Linked DNA regions of Homo sapiens: region 2 is linked to region 1. Evidence: fine-mapped expression QTL. A gene starts in region 1. The other region holds a variant in brackets. All regions are shown on one strand. Distances are from middle to middle.

Region 1 (4,380 bases):
TGGGAGGCCAAGGCAGGTGGATTGCCTGAGCTCAGGAGTTTGAGACCAGCCCAGGCAACACAGTGAAACCCCGTCTCCACTAAAATACAAAAAAATTAGCCGGGCGCGGTGGCATGTGCCTGTAATCCCAGCTACTTGGGAGGCTGAGACAGGATAATTGCTTGAATCTGGGAGGCGGAGGTTGCAGTGAGCTGAGATCACGCCACCGCACTCCAGCCTGGGCAACAGAGTGAGACTCCATCTCAAAAAAAAAAAGAATTGCTCAAAGTAGAGGGCTCAAAACACATGGTCATAGAGCACAAATCCAGCAGAGAGAACTCACCTATGACTCTAGATGCTTTGAGAGATCAGCAGGCACACAGGCCCTACTGAGCATTCAGTGCTCCTAGGGGGTGGCTGGAGGTCTACTTCAGATCCCACTTCTGACACCAAACTGTTAAAACAAAAACTTTGGACAAATTAAATTTAAGAGTTTGTGTGTGTGTGTGTGTGTGTGTGTGTGTGTGTGTGTGTGTGTGACAGAGTCTCCCTCTGTCATGCAGGCTGGAGTGCAGTGGTGCAATCTCAGTTCACTGCAACCTCCACCTCCCAGATTCCAGTGATTCTCCTGCCTCAGCCTCCCGAGTAGCTGAGATTACAGATGCCACAACACCTGGCTAACTTTTGTGTTTTTAGTGGAGACGAGGTTTCGCCATGTTGGCCAGGCTGGTCTCGAACCCCTGATCTCAAGTGATCCACCCATGTTGGCCTCCCAAAGTGCTGGGATTACAGGTATGAGCCACTGTGCCCAGCCAACAGAGTTTAATTGAGCAAAACACAACTCATGAATTGGGCAGCACTCAGAACCAATGGGGGAGGTTCGAGAGCTCCACTCTGTAATGTGGGCAGGAAGTTTTTATAGATAGAACACAGAAGTGAGATACAAAAAAAAAAAAATCACAATTAGCTTGATTTTGTTACTGCTTGAAATGTTTGCCTTATATGGCATGATCAGATCAGTTAGCAGCCTGTGACTGGCTGAGACCCAGCTATTTGTTCCAAAATATACTCATAGGTTAAGCTTTTAGCTTGTTTCTGTGGTACATTAGGTTGCAGTTTGTTGTTACCTAGAAACTCAAGGCACAGAGGCAGCCTGTTAATTGAGTTAATTTAACAGTTCAAACAAATACTTATGCACCAGTGTTTATAACAGCACTATTCACAGAGTTAGTTTGAAAGCAATCTAAATTCCTTCTTTGGATAGCCTAGACATTTCTCCTGGCCATAAGAAGGGGTGATGCCCTGACACATGCTACAATGTGGATGAACCTTGAAAACATGCTCAGTGAATGAAGCCAGACAGAAAAGGCATTAACCCAGAAACAAATATTGCATTTCCTTGATATGAAATATCCAGAACAGGCAAGTCCATTCACTGAGACAGAAAAGCGACCAGTGGTTGCCAGGGCATGGGAGGAGTGTGGAACGGGTCGTGACTGCTTAATGGATGGGAGTTTTATTTTGGGGTGGGGAAAGTGTTTGGGGACGAAACAGAGGCGGTGGTGGTTGCACAATGTTGTGAATGTCACTGAATTGTTTACTTTAAAATAGTTAATTACATGCTATGCTGATTTTATCATAATAAACTATTTTAAAATTATTTTGTGAAAAACTGTGATGCTTGGGATTTGCTTCAAAATAATGTGGGTGGGGTGGAGGTTCGAAAAGTTACCAAAAAAAAAAAAAAAGAAAGAAAGAAAGAAAGAAAACTCTGGCTTGCAAAGAAGAAAACGGATCGGCCGTGGATCCCTCTCCAGCTCGAGGGCTGGAGCTGCGGCGGAGGCAGGAGCTGGAAGCGAGGCGTCTGCTGGCAAAGGCGGGAGTGCAGGTTGCGCTCGAAGCCCCGGCAGCCGCGGCAGGAACCGGCCTGGACGGGGTGGGGGGCGCCGCGGAGGCCGGCGGGACTTCCCATGTCTTTCTCCTCGAGCTCGGAAAAAGTTCCCACCCGGGGAATCCCGACCCTCCAACTTCGAGACCGCCGGTTCCGCGCTCGGCCCCCACCTGGACCAAGAGCTGGGGCTGGGCTGCCGCGCCCCCGGCTCTGTCCCCGCGAGGCCCCGCTCCCAGCCCCACCTGGGACACCCGGGACTCCCGGGACACCTGCGGGGCGGGGCGGGGCCGGGGCGAGGCGGGGCGGGCTCGAGGCCGCACCCCGGAGGCGGAGCCGCGAGCTACCCGCCCGCCGCGCGCCCCCCGCTCTCGGTGCGCAGCGGGGCCGACCCTCAGCCCTGCAGCGCCTTCCTGGAGGTGGGGGCCGCCCGCGCCATGGCCGCCGCCCAGCCCAAGTACCCCGCCGGGGCGACCGCCCGGCGCCTGGCCCGGGGCTGCTGGTCCGCCCTCTGGGACTACGAGACGCCCAAGGTGATCGTGGTGAGGAACCGGCGCCTGGGGGTCCTGTACCGCGCCGTGCAGCTGCTCATCCTGCTCTACTTCGTGTGGTGCGCGGGGCGCGGGGTGCGGGGCGCGGGGTGCGGGGCGCAGGGGAGGGGCTGGGATTGGGGGCGCTGGGCTGGAGGCGCGGGGCTGGGGCTGGGGCTGGGACCGGGGGCGCGGGGCAGGGGCTGGGGCTGGGACCGGGGGCGCGGGGCAGGGGCTGGGATTGGGGGCGCGGGGCAGGGGCTGGGACTGGGGGCGTGGGGCAGGGGCTGGGACTCGGGGTGCTGGGCTGGAGGCGCGGGGCTGGGGCTGGGACCAGGGGCGCGGGGCAGGGGCTGGGGCTGGGACCGGGGGCGCGGGGCAGGGGCTGGGGCTGGGACCGAGGGCGCGGGGCAGGCCCCAAGAGCCCCGCAGAGCGGACCCGGGTCGCGGGAGGGCCCCTGCCGTGCCTGCGGGCGGGACTCAGCCTTCCCAGGGTCGCCTCCGGAGCCGGCGCCGCCCCTGCCCGCAGGTACGTATTCATCGTGCAGAAAAGCTACCAGGAGAGCGAGACGGGCCCCGAGAGCTCCATCATCACCAAGGTCAAGGGGATCACCACGTCCGAGCACAAAGTGTGGGACGTGGAGGAGTACGTGAAGCCCCCCGAGGTGCGGGCCGCCCCCTGCCCCCCGCCCCGCCGTGCACCCTACCCTAGTGGGCGGAGGGGGCAGCGGCTGCCGCCTGGCCGACCGCCCCCTCTTTCTGAGCCCAGGGGGGCAGCGTGTTCAGCATCATCACCAGGGTCGAGGCCACCCACTCCCAGACCCAGGGAACCTGCCCCGAGGTGAGGGGATCCCGCGGCGCTGGGGGACCCCGCCTCAGCTAGGCGGGCCAGCTGTCCCTTGCGGGGTCCCTGACTGGGCCGCCTCCACCCTAGAGCATAAGGGTCCACAACGCCACCTGCCTCTCCGACGCCGACTGCGTGGCTGGGGAGCTGGACATGCTGGGAAACGGTCGGTGTGCGCCAGCTGGGGCTGGGCGGGTGGGGCAGGGCTGCGTCCCCGCTAATGCCTCAGTGACCTCTGCCTCCCAGGCCTGAGGACTGGGCGCTGTGTGCCCTATTACCAGGGGCCCTCCAAGACCTGCGAGGTGTTCGGCTGGTGCCCGGTGGAAGATGGGGCCTCTGTCAGGTGCACCTGCGCCCCGGCCTGGGGCCCAGCCTCCCCTCTGATCCTTTTCCCCTGACCAGAGGCCAAACGGGCGGGGCAGGAGTGACAAGATCTGGGGAGGGGTGGGGGCCAATGCCAGGCGGGGGCTTTGCGGGAAGAGGGGACTAAACAACCCTTCTGTGCCTCCTCAGCCAATTTCTGGGTACGATGGCCCCAAATTTCACCATCCTCATCAAGAACAGCATCCACTACCCCAAATTCCACTTCTCCAAGTAAGAGCCGCGGGGTGTGGTGACGGCCCAGCCTGAGGGCTGCCTTCTGGGAATGGGGTATTTGGGGTGCAGGTCTCGCCTCCTGCCGCCTCCTCAGGGGCAACATCGCCGACCGCACAGACGGGTACCTGAAGCGCTGCACGTTCCACGAGGCCTCCGACCTCTACTGCCCCATCTTCAAGCTGGGCTTTATCGTGGAGAAGGCTGGGGAGAGCTTCACAGAGCTCGCACACAAGGCAGGGCAAGCGCAGGCAGGGTGGGGCCAGGGTGGGCTCCCACCTGCACAGAGAGGGCCTGGGGTACAGGGGACCAGTCCCTCCTCCCTCCTGACCAGCTGGCCCCGCTCAGGCAGAGGAAAAGAAATGCGATCAGCGCAACCCATCCGGTGTGGCGCTTGCTGAATTATTGACACTGGCCATGGGGCTGGCTGCTGGCACCCCTTGTGCCTCAGACACTGGACGCCCACCAGTACCCCTGAGCTGCCCCATGGGCCCCTCAGTGCACACCTCACATGCAGCCTGGGACTGACCCGGGCTCTCGAGGGG
Region 2 (4,380 bases), 26 kb before region 1:
CCCTGCTCATCAAGTTCAACGTGTAAATGGAAACAGCAACTCAACTGTTGGGATTTCCCTCCTTTACATTTTTGTTCTAAAATTTTTTTTTTGGAGACAGAATCTCGCCCTGTCACCCCGGCTGGAGTGCAGTGGCGCAATCTCGGCTCACTGCAACCTCCGCCTCCCACATTCAAGCGATTCTCCTGCCTCAGCCTCCCAAGTAGCTGAGATTACAGGCAGTAGCTGAGATTACAGGTGCCCACCACCACGCCTGGCTAATTTTTTGTATTTTATTAGAGACGGGGTTTCACCATGTTGGCCAGGATGGTCTCCACCTCCTAACCTCATGATCCGCCAGCCTCGGCCTCTCAAAGTGCTGGGATTACAGGCGTGAGCCACCACACCCGGCCTAATTTTGTATTTTTTAATAGAGACAGGGTTTTGCCATGTTGGCCAGGCTGGTCTCAAACTTCTGACCTCAGGTGATCCACCCACCCTGGCCTCCCAAAGTCCTGGGAGTACAGGCGTGAGCCACTGCGCCAGCCTAGATTTTAGAAAAAGAAATTATAGGACTGATGCATGTTCCTTGTCACAAGCAAAAGAATCCATGAGTGATCAGGAAAGCAGCCACTCCCTCTGGGGACACTACCTGTGCTGTGGAACCGTCCGAGGGAGCTGGACTCCTCATGCTCCAGGAAGAACCGCGGGTGCTCCATGATGCCAGCCCCTGTGGCTGTGTCCGGTTCGTGGATTAAGTCTTGTCTATCAAACTGCACCTTCTGGGACAAACATTTTTTGTGGGATTTGATTCTCCAACGTGGAACTGTGGGTTCAGAAACGGTGCTTATCTGTAACTTGTATTTGTTATTTTAAAAATTTCAGCTTGAAAAGTTGCAAGCGCCGTTCACATAACTCTTTCCTGACCTCAGAGCGAGCTGGTAACCCTCCACCTTCGCTCTCGGCACCTTCTGTCCGTTCCGGCAGGCAGGCTGTCCGTCCCAGTCCACACCGCAGCCCCCCAGCATCAACGAGCAGCACAGCTCCCTGCCTGGTGCAGGGCCTCAGCATTCACGCTGCTTCCTCCTGGGAGAGCCCGCCCCGCCTCTCAGGGACTCTCACAACCTTGGTGCGCAGAAGGTTCTGGACCGCAATTCGGGGACGCCCTCACTGGCTTTCTCCGGAGCGTGGGCATTGGAGTGGAAATACGTAGAATTGCTGGGGATCCTCGAAGCCGCCGGCAGCGCCCGATGCCAGCTTGTCCCATCAGGCGTTGGTCCCGACCTGCACTCAGCCACCTGCCCCCGGTTTTGTAATTGAGCATTGAGGGGAAGATGCCTGAACCCATATGAAACCTCTTTCCCCTCAAACGTTCCCTGCACGCATCAATTACATCAGCGCAGCTGGGCCTTCCCCTGAGCGTGATGTCCAGGGGCGAGGCCAGTGGCTTCCTGCGCGTGCCCGTCCCCACTCACAGCCCCTGACCTCCGGGGCCCCCACGCACCAGGCGCTCCCTGCCCGGCCCCATCTCCCGGAGCCCTGGAGGCTCAGCCTGGGTGTCGTGTGTGCCTCGTGCTCTTGGGAAAGTTACCTGTGTTTCTTCACATCTATATTTATTTACTTCCAAAACCACCAAGGTGTGTTGAAAACCCTGGAATTCCAGGCCAGGCGCGGCAGCTCACGCCTGTAATCCCAGCACTTTGGGAGGCCGAGACGGGCAGATCACGAGGTCAGGAGATCAAGACCATCCTGGCCAACATGGTGAAATCCCGTCTCCACTAAAAATACAAAAAAAAAAAAAAATTATCCGGGTGTGGTGGCGGGCGCCTGTGGTCCCAGCTACTGGGGAGGCCGAGGCAGGAGAATGGCTTGAACACGGGAGGTGGAACTTGCAG[T/C]GAGCCGAGATCGCGCCACTGCACTCCAGCCTGGGCGACAGAGCGAGACTCCATCTCAAAAAAAGAAAAAAAAGAAAACCCTGGAATTCCAGTCCGACCGCACAGGGCTCATCCCGTGCTCCTGGCATCCACTGGCTTCCCCACGGCGGGGAGCCCGCCTGCTCCCCTTGCAGATGCCCCTACTCCTCACCTGAGCCCAGCACCCACCCGGGGCCGCCCACCCGGCACAGCGCCTGCCCTCTGCTCGGCCCCGGCCACCCCAAGCCGGCGCAGGGTCCATGCTGTACTCCCAACCCCTGGCTCCCCACGGCCCGTGAGGATGCTCAGCCTCATGCAAAGGTCTCAGGACGAAATTGTCCAGGAAGGGAAGGCGAGCGGGAGGAAGGGGGCGGGCAGACAAGCTGTGCGGCCTCTTCTCGCCTCTCCTGGCTGCGCCCTCAGGTCCCCGATTCGAGCTTCCTGCCCCCACTGCCTGCATCCTACCGGCGCCTGACTGCACTTAGGGCCTCCTGGAAGTGCAGACTCGCCTCTCCATCTCAAGACCCTTAACTTACTTACACCTGCGAAGCTCCTGTTACCACATGTGGCAGCACTCCCAGGTTCCACGGCGGGGATGCGTCTCCGTGCCGTCGCTCAGCCGACCACGCAGCCCTCCCGGCCCCTTCCTGTCTTGGATGCGGCTGAGATTTCTGGAGCACAGCAGCCGTCCTGCAGCTGCAGCGAGTATTTAGAGTTCATAGCACAAGCCTGCCCCTATTTAAGTTGCAGAAATAACACATTTATCTCCAGGATTTGCCCCAACCCTTGCTCATCTCCAGGCCTCAGCCTTCCTGACACAATTCCACCTCCCTGGTACAGATGCTCGTGGCTCCTCAAGACACATTTTAAATCTTTTTTCTTTATTGAGCTGAAATTCACATCACATAAAATGAACCGTTTTAAAGCGTACAATTCGGTAGCATTTAGTCCATTTGCGATGTTGAGTGACCCTCACTCCCGTCTGGTTCCAAACGCTCTCCACCTGGAAGAGAACTCCCTCCCCGTGAGCATCTCTCCCACCGCCGCCCTGGCAACCCGGGCCTCCTCCCGCCTCCGGACCCGCCTGTTCTGGGCCTGCATAGAAACGGAAGCTCACAGTCGGGGCTGTGTGTCTGGCTTCTGTCCCCCATCGCCATTCTCCAGGCTCACCCCCTGCAGCCGTGCGGGCCTCATTCTTTTCCTGGTGGAATCCTGTTCCCTGGTGTGGAGGGCCACGCTGGGCTTATCTGTCGATCGTTTGTGGACACCTGAGCAGCTATGAAGAGTCTGCTTTGAACATCTGTGGACAACAATTTGTGTGACGTCTGTTTCCGATTCTCTTGGGTTTGTCCCAGGAGTGAGCTTTGGGGTCAGATGTCCAAGTTCACAGTCACACTCGAGCCGTGACCTCGGCCGGGGCCTTGCCAGGTCCAGTCCTGGCCTCAAGATGCCCCTTCAGGGTCAGCCCGCAGCCAGGGGTCCCAGAGCAGGCAAGGGCTTGAGGAGGGCCTCCCGGGGCTGGGGCACCTGCCTTTCAGGTGAAATATCAGAGTGTTCAACCCAGACCATACCAATGGCACCCGCGCGGAGTGCAGTCACCAGGGAACCGCCCTGCGGCGATGGCCCCGGCGGGGAGAGGGTGGGTGACGTGCGCTGCGGAGCATCTGCCCTGGTGGAGGTGCAGCCCCACTCAAAAAGGTTCACCGTGTGAGTTAAAGATGTTTACTGTGAACCCTGAAGCAACCACTAAAACAACAAAACAAAATTCTGGCTCATAAGCCAACAACTGCAATCAAACAGGATCATCAAACAGAATCCAAGGAAGGAAGAGGAAATGGGAAAGGGAGAGCCGGTGACAGCAGCGGGAGCAGAGAGCAGGACGGCGGGCGTGGCCTCTACACAGTGAGACCAATGGGAGCAGAGAACAGGATGGCAGGCGTGGCCTCTGCATAGTGAGACCAAAGGGAGCAGAGAACAGGAAGGTGGGCGTGGCAACTGCACACTGAGACCAATGGGAACAGAGCAGGACAGCAGGCGTGGCCTCCACGCAGCCACAGCCACACCGGAGCAAGTGGTCAGACAGCCCCAGTTAAGAGCAGAGATTGCCAGGGAGGGTAGGACAGCAAAACCCAACGCTAAACTGCTCATGAGAAATGCACTTTAGATATGGACACCAATAAGTCAAAAGGACAGGAAAAGCTATGCCATGCAAACAAAAATTTTTAAAACCTGCAGTGACTATGTCAATATCAAAGTAACTTCAGGGGCCGAGCACGGTGGCTCACGCCTGTAATCCCAACACTTTGGGAAGCTGAGGCGGGCAGATGACTTGAGGTCAGGAGTTCGAGTCCAGCCTGGCCAACATGGCGAAACCCTATCTCTACGAAAAATACAAAAAGTAGCTGGGCATGGTGGTGGGCGCCTGTAATCCCAGCTACTTGGGAGGCTGAGGCAGGAGAATCACTTGAACCTGGGAAACAGAGGTTGC

What was found. PIP is the estimated chance that this variant, and not a neighbour inherited with it, causes the effect.
Region 2: its variant is the best candidate, but not a certain one, in a credible set for the expression of P2RX2 in unexposed skin (GTEx, PIP 0.57).

Annotation. Positions count from the first base shown.
Region 1 is chr12:132,616,513-132,620,892 of GRCh38, forward strand. It overlaps P2RX2 (purinergic receptor P2X 2), which reads left to right and starts at 2,264. Exons shown (of 11, transcript NM_170682.4): 1 at 2,264-2,477; 2 at 2,927-3,062; 3 at 3,167-3,238; 4 at 3,332-3,407; 5 at 3,488-3,584; 6 at 3,755-3,835; 7 at 3,933-4,071. The coding sequence starts at 2,305.
Region 2 is chr12:132,590,279-132,594,658 of GRCh38, forward strand. LOC124903062 (a long non-coding RNA gene) reads right to left here and starts at 4,186. Exons shown (of 2, transcript XR_007063549.1): 1 at 3,063-4,186; 2 at 2,753-2,895. RefSeq lists an enhancer at 3,850-3,899. The variant T/C (reference allele first, on the strand shown) is at 1,875.